Homo sapiens: one gene and its partners. The protein of the gene in region 2 interacts with the protein of the main gene of each other region in a biochemical or structural test. Each region holds a gene or a part of one and is shown on either strand. Other genes may lie near its edges. The genes, in order: GRID2IP, NCBP2L and DLG5.

Region 1 (3,749 bases), on a different chromosome or scaffold from region 2:
TCCTCCCTCTTTCCATCCCAGCCCTGGGTCTCTAAATGGTGCCTCCATCTTGGCTTGTGGCCACACCCTACTTCCTGCAGGTGACTCAGGCCTTGGGTTCTTCTTGTGGCTAGAGGTCTGATCCATTCCAGGCTCCTCATTCTTAATCTTCAGGACCACGCTAATATTCCACCTGCAGTCTATCACAGCCTGGTTTGTGCCAAAGTCAAGAGGAAATGCCTTTGGCAGATTGGTGAAGCCAAACTAGGGCCTCCTGCAGCCAACAAGCCAGCCAGGCCGCTGTGCAAGGGCAGGTCTAATCCTGGTTTTGTGGGGGCTTAGAACAGGCGGAATTCTTTTACATTTTTTTGGAGGTGGGGAATGGCGGGGAGGGGAATGGAGTCTCACTCTGTCACTCAGGCTGCAGTGCAGTAGCATGATCTCAGCTCACTGCAACCTCCGTCTCCCAAGCTCAAGTAATCCTCCCACCTCAACACCCTTGAGTATCTGGCACCACAGGCGCGCGCCACCACACCTGGCTGGTTTTTTTTTTTTTTATATTTTTGATAGTGATGGGATTTCACCACATTGCCCAGGCTGGTCTCAAACTCCTGAGTTCAAGTCATCAGCCCTCCTCAGCCTCCCAAAGTGCTGGGATTACAGGCGTGAGCCACCTCACCCCACTGGCTCTTTTACACTTGATCTTAGATGAAGGGCCAAGAAGCGATATCTGTGGCTCTTTTTATTTTATCTTTTTATTTTAGAGATGCGGTCTCACTCCGTTACCCAGGCTGGAATGCAGTGGTGCAGTCATGGCTCACTGCAGCCTCAAACTCCCAGGCTGAAGCGATCTTCCTGCCTCAGTCTCCTGAGTATCTGGGACTATAAGGCATGCACCACCATGCCAAGCTAGTTTTTGATTTTTTTTGTAGAGATGGTGTCTCATTACGTTGCCCAGGCTGGCCTTGAACTCAGGGTCTCAAGTGATCCTCCCACCTTGGTCTCCTAAAATGCTAGGATTACATCTAGCACCTGGCCTGCAGTTAAGTTCTAATGGGGAGGATAGACAGAGAAAGGGGCACGTGGGAACATTCTGGTGTCAATTATTCTATAGTCTACATTATATTTTTATCTATATCCTATTATTTTATATATTGATCAAGAGGGTGGTTATTCAAGGGTGCATGTATATGGAAAATTTATTGAGCTGCACACTTAATGCACTTTACACCTATAGTACCTTAATAAAAAAGAAACACAAGTGAATAAAAATTGCAAAATTAGGCCGGGCGCAGTGGCTCATGCCTGTAATCCCAGCACTTTGGGAGGCAGAGGTGGGCAGATCACTTGAGGTCAGGAGTTTGAGACCAGACTGACCAACATGGTGAAACCCCGTCTCTACTAAAAATACCAAAAAAAAAAAAAAAAAAAAAATTAGCTGGGTGTGGTGGCAAACGCCTGTAATCTCAATTACTGGAAGACTGAGGCAGGAGAATCACTTGAACTTGGGAGGCAGAGGTTGTACTGAGCCAAGACCTGGCCACTGCACTCCAGCTTGGGTGACAGAGCGAGACTCTGTCTCAAAAAAAAAAAATGCAAAATTGTTTGCAAGGTTTTGAAGTTGAGCATTCCCATATTTCTGTTAAATCTGACCCCAGAAGTTTCCTTACCTCTGGCCCTGGGAGAGCGGCGCCCGGCCCACTCCCTGCCCACATTATGAGCCCCCTCCTTCCCGCCCCCACCTCCCACCCCCGCGCCTTACCTTGCGGCTGAACTCTTGGGCCTTGCGCCTGCGCTCTCGGTGCACCGCGTCCGGGCGCTTGCGGCCGGCCAGGCGAAGCAGCTCACGGCCCAGAGCTAGGCCGCGGCCGCACCGCGGGGCCCGCAAGACTGTGGTCGGGGCCGCGGGGCCGGATCCTGGGCCGGGGCCACCGTCGGGAGCCGGGAGCACGCCCAGACTGGGCGGCACACGTGGGCAGCGCCGTGCCAGGCGCACGAGGCGCTCGCGGCTCAGACCGCCCACCGCCAGCCCCTCCACCTCCAGGATCTGGTCTCCTGGCCGCAGTCCTCCGGCATGCGCGCTGCTCCCCTTGGCCACCTCCAGGACGAAGCAGGGGCCAGAGCCACCTAGCCGGAAGCCAAAGTCCTCTGGCCAGCCCTGGTTCGTGGCCGGCGTGGCAGTGGTGGCCATGCACCTAGAACTGGAGACAGAACAGGGATTTCCTTGCTGCTCTGTCCATGGCTCCAAAGCCACTCAAAGGCCCAGGGCCACTGAAGGCCTCTACTTATCTCTGCCTCCTCCCTCTGACTCCGTCTTTGTCTCAATTCCCTTCCATCTATGTTTTTTTGTTTTGTTTTGTTTTTGTTTTTTTAAGACAGAGTTTCGCTCTTGTTGCCCAGGCTGGAGTGCAATGGCGTGATCTCAGCTCACCGCAACCTCCGCTTACTGGGTTCAAATGATTCTCCTGCCTCAGCCTCCTGAGAAGCTGGGATTACAGGCATGTGCCACCAAGCCTGGCTAATTTTGTATTTTTAGTAGAGACGGGGTTTCTCCATGTTGGTCAGGCTGGTCTCGAACTCCTGACCTTAGGTGATCTGCCTGCCTTGGCCTCCCAAAATGCTGGGATTACAGGCGTGAGCCACCGTGCCTGGCTTGCCTAATTGTTGTATTTTTAGTAGAGACAGGGTTTCACTATGTTACCCAGGCTGGTCTTGAACTCCTGGCCTCAGGTGATCTGCCTGCTTGGCCTCTCAAAGTGCTAGGATTACAGGCATGAACCATCATGCCTGGCTTGTTTTTTTGTTTTTTGTTTGTTTGTTTGTTTGTTTTTACTAAAAACAAAATTGGGGAGGGGGTGTAAAAGAAAAATGGCCCTTCCTTAAAGTCTTCTTTTGAGTGCCTTGGATTTTTAACCAATGCGGCCACATCCTTTTCCATGGGCCCCTCCTGCTTCCACAGGTCTGTTTTACTGTCTTACATGTACACTTGGCTTCCATGGGCCCTCCTCACTCCCTACACTTTAATCCCTCTTCTTACCCCTCTCCATCTACCAAAATTCCCTTTCGGGATCTGGCATGAATCACAAACTTACGGAAGTCCAGAATGTTGGAGCAGAATGGTCCCTCAGAGACCATTCATATCTTTGGGCATTTATTTTATTTTATTTTATTTTTGAGACAGAGTCTTGTTCTGTCACCCAGGCTGGAGTGCAGTGGTGTGATCTCGGCTCACTGCAACCTCTGACTCCTGGGTTCAAGCGATTCTCCTGCCTCAGCCTCCCGAATAGCTGGGATTACAGGTGTCCACCACCATGCGCGGCTACTTTTTGTATTTTTAGTAGAGACAGGGTTTCACCATATTGGCCAGGCTGGTCTCCAACTCCTGACCTCAGGTGATCCACCTGCCTTGGCCTCCCAAAGTGCTGTGATTACAGGCGTGAGCCACCGTGCCCAGCCTCTTGGGCTTTATTTTTTAGAGGCAAAGTCTCACTCTGTCACCCAGTCTGGAATGCAGGAACACCATCATATCTCACTGCAGCCTTGACCTTCCAAGCTGAAGTCATCCTCCTGCCTCAGCCTCCTGAGTAGCTGGGATCACAGGCGCATACTACCATGCCCAGCTAATTAAAAAAAAATTTTTATAGAAATGGGGTCTCACTATGTTGCCCAGACAGGTCTCAAACTTCTGGGCTCAAGCGATCCTCCTTCTTCAGCCTCCCAAAGTGCTGGGATTACACATGTGAGCCACTGCACCCAGCCTGGGGGAGACT
Region 2 (3,649 bases):
TTCTGCTCCAGATGAAGGCAGTAGCTCTAAGAAAGGAAATTAGAAAGCGCTGGGACAGTAGTGTTACTACATGCCTTACCTTTATAAGACTGTTCCTAATGGGTGAGAGAGCTGAGAGCCATTGTTGAGGACTGGAACCCTGTGGCCAAATATCTACTTTGTGCCAAGAGAAATTCATGTCTGATTGAGACTGCCTAGTGCTCAGAGTGACAGAAGATGTTCATATGTATTTAACACCTGTATTTAAATGAGTAGTTAAACATAAACATGTCATGGAGGTGAGAGATGAGAAATTACTTAATGGGTACAATCTACACTGTTTGGGTGACGGTTACATTAAAAGCCCAGACTTCACCACTCTGCAATATATCCATGTACCAAAACTGCACTCGAACCCCTTAAATTTGTACAAATAAATAAATAAACAAACATAAGCTGAAACAGACTGGCAGAACTAAAGCGGAGACAATGGCCTGAGACAGGCTACAGGAGAAAAGAGGATAATAAGTGACTGTTTAGTGTAGAAGCTGATCTGGATTAAATTAGGAAGCAGGTGTTAATGGATGCTTGAATTTTTTTGTTTATCATTTGCACTATATGGCCTTACTGTTCAAAGTGTTGTCCGTGGGCCAGCAGGAGCAGCACACCTGGGAGCTTTTTAGAAATGCAGGATCTCAGGCCCCTCCCTAGATCTGCTGAATAATAATCTTCATTTTAACGAGTTTCAGGTGATTTGAGTGCACAGTACAGTTTGAGAAGCACTGACGTATGTGGTTTCTTAGTTGAACTTTTGCCTAACAAAATTCTCTGTCCCTTCCTCCTTCCTTCTCTCCCTTGTACCACCTCTCCTAGTTTCCCAATCTTAGTTTCCTTGTGATCTGGCACATAACTCTAATCATGGCTGATAGCCCCAAAAGTAGTGTTCCCAATATATCCAGATAAAGAAAAGAAAAGAAAAGAGTGGTCAGATATATATTGTAAAGCACAGGTTTGGGCAGTAGGAAACCATTGACTTGGCCTCTAATTGTGCTGTCTGTATAACTTTTGTCAAGTTCCTTGACCCTTCTGAGCCTCAGTCTGTAAAATAAGGGTCATTATAGTATTTACCTCATAGTGTTGTTGTGAGAATGAAATGAAATGAGGGGAAGGTATGTAAACTGCCTAACACAGCGCCTGACACACAGTAAGTGCTCAGTATGTGGTAGTCATTATTATTGAAAGCCATCAGTTCTGAAGTAAACTTAGAACTATGTTATGATTCCAGACTTTCAAAGTCCCCATGAGTCTTTCTGGAGAGCCTCCGGAAAGCCCTGTGTACCTCATCCAGTTCAGCTTTCTTGACTCCAGTACCAGCAGTCAAGCAAAAGTATTTCTTATTCCCTTGGATTGTCTTCTTGTTTTTGCTGAATTACCAAGATTTCCTACTTTGTCATTGCAAATGGCCCACATTTTTAGTACATTAAAGCTAAAAACATCTTTTGTGGGCTGGTCTGGAAATGTAGTTCAATTTATAACAATTTTTTTCTCCTATGGAAAAATGCATGTCACCTTCCAAACAATTGACTTGAGAGTGAACTTTGAGAGCTCAGCCTGTCTGCAGCTTGGAGGCTCCCTGTATGTCAATATATGGAGTGGTCACAAAGGCTAGGTAAACCAAGTCCAGAATTCCAGAGGTGGCTGAAAGACAATTGACAATGCTACAAGGAGTGGAAAGTAGGGCAAATGGATCAATCTGCGTGCACAGTATCAAGATTTAGAAAGCTAATACAGGAAGGGAGATATACCTCTGGAAGGATATTAAAAAATAGCCACAATGACAACACAAACCATTTTTTTTTTTACTATATTAGGTCAGGGGCCCCTAATCGGTAGCTTGGGATCTACAAACAATATCAAGGCCTTGCAAGCTAACTCTCCAACATGATCGCCCTTCTCCTGCCCTGCTCTCTGCAGTTTACCTGGATTCTCAGCTCAGAGAGGAAGACAGTAAGCAGCATCTCCCCAATCCTCTTCACTCCCACACCCTGGTAGCCAGCCCCCAGATTCAGTAAACTTCCCTCTACCTTTAATTTCCGTCTTCCCAGGGAGATCAAGGCATCAGGAATATACAACACAGTTTTTCCTTACAAAAAGGATGAGGACTCCTGTATTGGGTAAAATAAGATGACTGGTGAAAACAGGGCCCCCAGGATGGAGAGGGCTGGAAAGACAGTAAGAAAGGACCATGAAAAAGCAAAGGACTTTTGTGCCTTCTCCCTGAAGTTGTTAGCAAGAAAACCAATTGTATCTGGGGGAACTCTGGGTTAACATGGCAGCAAGATAACACAGTCTGATACCCACCATCTAGGAATGCCCATTAAAATATCCATGAAGCTTTGCAACAAAAAACTAAAACTTGCACTAGCTACGGAAAATAGGGGAAAAGGGACTGTTAATTGCTAATGGAGAAGGAATTTCTGCTAGCTGTTGTAGGGAGATGGGGTTGGACTGAGGAACATATTTATAATCTACATACACTCTACCCTCCTATCCAGAACAGCAAAAGTGCCCAACAAAGTTGGGGAAAGATTTTGATTCACTTCTACCAACTGTCCTTAGATTGGAAATACAGAGGCTCATCAGAAAACCAATGTCATCCCTTTACTATAAAGAAAATATTTTCAGAGGCAACAACAGCTCTGTTCCACTTCTTCTACCATCAATTCCTCTATTTTATTTTTTTCTCTTTCTTTCTTTCTCCTTCCTTCCTTCCTTTCTTTCTTTCCTTCTTTCTTTCTTTCCTTCCTTCCTTCCTTCCTTCCTTCTTTCTTTCCTTCCTTCTTTCTTTTGTTTGTTTTTGAGACAAGGTCTCATTCTGTGGCCCAGGCTGGAGTGCAGTGGCACAATCACAGCTCACTACAGCCTCAACCTCCCAGGCTCAAGCAATCTTCCCACCTCAGCCTCCTGAGTAGCTGAAACCACAGGTGCATGCCACCACACCTGGCTATTTTTTTTTTTTTTTTTTTTTTTGTGGAGATGGGGTTTTGCCATGTTGCCCAGGCTGGTCTTGAACTCCTGAGCTTAAGTGATCCACCCGCCTCAGCTTCCCAAAGTGTTGGAATTACAGGCGTGAGCCACCGCATCTGCCCAGCTCCTCTATTTCCTATATGCTTTGTGGAGACCACAACTTGAGAACACCATGTGGCTGGTGATGGTGGTAGCGGTGGTTGGGGCCAGAGATTGTTATGGTTGGGGCCAGAGATTGTTATCGGGAAAAGTTCTGAACATAAGCATGCTTGCAGACATTATATCTGAAAAAATGTAATGTGTAACATGTAATTTCATATTACATATATAAATATGTAATATGTAATTTCATGTAATATGAAATAATGTAACATGTAACAAATTGCAGAGTTGAATGACCCAAAAGATCAGAGATGGAAGATTCCATCTATCTCAGTCCAGCCAAACCTAAAAATAATGATAGCAGCAACAATAACACTATCAACTGCCACCAGTTGCTGGGCAATTATTATATGCCAGACACTATATTAAGTACTTAACATGTCATGCATTATCTTACATACTCCTCATAGTAAACATAACTTGCCATTCAAGTTTGTTTGAAAAGGTCAGGTAACAATAATGACATCTACCACATATTGAG
Region 3 (3,749 bases), on a different chromosome or scaffold from region 2:
TTATCCTCATGGCCACATCTGACAGTCCCTTCCTAGCATCTCCCAAAGCACTATCCCAGGAAAGGACTAGGTTTGCCCAGTAACTCTGACATGACCACAACTGGGGGGAAAGAATGCAGGTTTGAGGGACAGAGATGCAAGTCAGAAGCTCAAAGTGGAGACGGGAGGGCCACCAATGAAATGACCTGCTGTGTGGCCAGCAATTTAGTCTCTCTGTCAGTTTCCTGCAGCTACAAAAATTGAGGTTAAGATGGCCAACGTAAGAGAGCTGTTACCAGGAATGCCTTATAAAATCATTCCCTTAATAAGTGGGGCTTTTAACAGCCAAATAAATGGGTCCCATCAGCCTTTGACCTTCAGGTTGCTAAGGGCAGTTTCTCAGCCCTCTCGGTTCACTTGTTTTTCTTTTATACATATATCCTTATTTATTTTTACTGTACCTATCGATTCACTGTTAAAACAGGGACAAGACCTAGAAAGATGGCACTTTGTTTCCTGGCTCTGAACAAGTTAAATCAAACAATAGGTTATAATTCAAAATTCCTGGTGCCCAATACTTTCTGAGCATTTTAACCACTCCAAGCCAGAGTTTTCTCTCTGGCAAAGAATAACAGAAAGCTCACATAGTGGCAACGACAACTGAACGTGATAAAGCAGAGCGCCTGCCACAACAGTAGATGCCCAATAAATGCTAGTTCTCCTCCTCCCTCAGTGCCATGTCTTCTTCCTCCAGCTGCCTTGTCTAAAAAGGCTGGCTTCCACACTCCACGGCCAGGCCAGGACAAGCCTACCACTTGTCAGAAACTCCCGCCAGTATCCGTTCCTGCACCCAGACACACACTTACAAATCAGTCATCCCCAAGACCAAAGACACAGGGGTTCCAAAAGGCACCCTCAAGGGAACCAGTCACCAGCCTTCCTCGTTAAGCAGCTCTGTGCTCTCAGGGAGAGAACTTAGCCCCAGCAGCCACTACTAGGATTTTCCCATGGTGCAATGCAACTTCCCCAACTTTTCCGGGCCCAGTTTCCAAAGAAACCCAGGCAGGCGTTGTGCACAATCAGCCACCAGTCTGGGAGAGACTGGGCTCTGAGCAGAGAAAAAGGAGCTGGGACAGCCAGAAAATGAAAAAGCAGTTGTGGCCCCGGCACAGGATGGCAGCGACCAAAACTTAAGAGTAGGGGTCCTGGCCCAAGTCCCATTCTTCTGGACGGTACCCTTGGTTAAAGGCTAGCACAGGGTGCCAAAGCTAGCGGACGGTGAGGAGCCTCAGAAAAGGGACTGATGGACATCCTCCGAGGTACCCCCTACCCGCTACTGGACCTGGTGGCCCCCGGGGACCCTGTCGTCGAGGCACCTGAGAGTGAAGGCCTTCAGCGGGGGGCATTGTTCACAGCGAACGGCGGGACTGGGGGAGGCGGCGGGACTTCGGGATCCGCGCACCGCCGCCTCCCCAACTGGGCCAGAGGAGCGAGTCCACCGAGGCCATCGCCAGGTGGAGCGGCGGCCCCGGCGAGGTACCCTCGGCCAGCAGGAGGGAGAAGCGGAGGGCGCGTCCCAGAGGCGGGGGCCAAGGGTCTGCCACTCACCCGCGCCTTCGGCGGGCTGCGGCGGCCCGACGACGCCGTTCAGGTAGAGAATGGGCAGCAGGTGAGGCTGCGTCTTCTCCAGCGCCGCCCGCAGGTCCTGGAAGTGGTCCCGCTCCTTGGCCAAGAGCAGCTTGAGCAGCAGCTCCGCCTTGGCGCCTCCCGCCTCCTCGTCCAGCTGCCGCCGCTCGCCGGGACTGAGCGCTCCCGCGGCCTCGAGCAGCCCGAGCACGGCTTCCACCTCCGTCATGGCCTGGGCCAGGCTCTGCTGACACTGGGCGAGCAGCTCCCGGCGCTGGGGCTCCATGGTGGCGGGCCGCGCCGCCCCGCCCCGCCGGACGCCTCCCGGGCCCCCCGAGGCCGGCGGGCGGGCAGGCGAGCACCTCGGCAGCAGCCCTAGGGCGCCGGGAGCCGTGAGGCGGCGGGAGCCATGGGCCGGGGCCTGGGCGGGCTGGGGGCCCGGGGCGGCGGGCGGCGCTCAGCAGCGGCCGCCTCCCGGGCTCCGGAGCGCAGCCATGTTGGCTGCCGCGGCGGCGGGACTGGAAGAGGAGGAGGAGGAGACGGAGGAGGAGAAGGAGGAGGCGGAGGTGGGGACGGCGGCCGGGGCGCGCCCCGAGGCCGGGCTCCAGCCGGGCATGCTCCCCCTCCCCCTCAGCCTCCGCGCGCGCCGCCCGCCCCGCGAGAAAACTCGCCCCGAAAGCCGGGCCGCGCGCCGCCCCCAGAGCAAGACTACAACTCCCGGGAGAAAGTCGCCTGGGCCGTGTTTCCCAGGCTCCCGACAGCTCCGGCCCGGCTCGGAGGCCGCCTCGGCCCCCGTGCACCCCGGCCCGGCTCACCGGGGCCCCGCGGCCGCCACCCGCTCCCCCGTGGCCACAGCCCCGCCGCCGCCGGCCCGTCCCTCCTCTCTCCCCTCCCCAGGCCGTCCCTCCGGGAGGCGGCAGCAGGGGAGGAGGGGACGGGCGGAGGGGAGGGGTCCCCGGCCCGCCCGCTAGGCGGGGACGCGGCGCCGGCTGGTTCCCGGTCCCCCGAGGCCCAGGCGCAGCCGGGGGTGGGGGACACGGAGTCAGGCCTGGCACGCGGCCAGCCCACAAGCTGCTGGAGACCCCCTCATACAAATCTTGCCCCCAGTCCAGAGGGTCCTAATCTGAGAACTCCAAAATACAGCCTGGAGACAAATGGTGGGGAGGGTTTCCCCTAAATTTGGACATCTCCAGATTAAGACCTCCGCCGAATCCGTGAGGCTTTCCCTCTCCAAGGAGCTCCTAAGAGAATTTCCCAGTAAAATCGCCTCAACTGCGGTAAATAGGCTGTTCCCCGCGCCAGCATTTGAGAAGAGCTGGTCCCCAGAGTGTAAAGGAGTTAGGATGTTGGCAGGAGGAAGGATGTGTCGCCGGATGAGGAAAAGAAAGGTGGGTGTCTGCGGTGCAGTCCTTGGTCTTTCTGGCAAGTGAGGCGCTCTCCCCCTAAATGTCTCAGAGGGAGACAAATCAGCGGACTACCTTGCTTCCTTTGATGACTTGGAAAGGATCTGCAGTCCCCCTTAAAGCCCAAGAATGTCTTCTCTTCCACGACAGCCGTTTGTGGACACATACTGCTTACCTCCCTGACTGCAGGACAAGGTCCTTCAAAGCTGGAACTCTGACTGCGCTCAGTGATCCCGCAGTGCTCCTCTGTAGAGTGGGAACCCAGGTCCATTTCAAATATCTACGTTGGAATGAGTGGATCTCGCTGGGGGTGAGAGGCACTTTGTCTACCCACACTGCCAGTCCCAGCCACATGCCTCCTCCCTTCCCTCAAAAAGCAGTGTCTTCTTAGTCTGCTTCTTCAAGGGGAGAAGTCGTTTTTATTTATGGAAACGAACTCACTATATGGTAGAAAGAACAAGAGTATCAGAATTTGCACTTTGGACTTGGACTCCCCTCTAAGCAGCTGCACAAGGTGGAACAAACCAATAATCCTTGCTGATCTGTTTTGTCCTTAGGAAAAATGGTGGAGGGAGAATATTAGATCAGGGGTTCTTAGCCTTGGCTTCATGAATAAGCTCAAGGATGTCAATGAAGCTTTTGACATGATCTCAACTTTTTTGTGAACATTTATATATTTTTCTGGAATGGGGTCCATAGAGTTACAAGTTCTTTAAGACCTCCAGATGGACCCCAATATGG

Evidence for each region.
Region 1: the proteins of NCBP2L (region 2) and GRID2IP interact in a test that uses a peptide from one of them, tested with the Homo sapiens proteins (one large-scale study listed by IntAct).
Region 3: the proteins of NCBP2L (region 2) and DLG5 interact in a test that uses a peptide from one of them, tested with the Homo sapiens proteins (one large-scale study listed by IntAct).

Annotation. Positions count from the first base shown.
Region 1 is NC_000007.14:6,549,267-6,553,015, forward strand, and holds the start of GRID2IP (delphilin), read right to left. Parts: upstream 2,196-3,749; 5' UTR 2,171-2,195; coding exon 1,742-2,170; intron 1-1,741.
Region 2 is NC_000023.11:107,784,168-107,787,816, reverse strand, and holds part of NCBP2L (nuclear cap-binding protein subunit 2-like), read right to left. Parts: intron 1-3,649.
Region 3 is NC_000010.11:77,924,630-77,928,378, forward strand, and holds the start of DLG5 (disks large homolog 5), read right to left. Parts: upstream 2,127-3,749; 5' UTR 1,892-2,126; coding exon 1,588-1,891; intron 1-1,587. UniProt on the Homo sapiens protein: Acts as a regulator of the Hippo signaling pathway.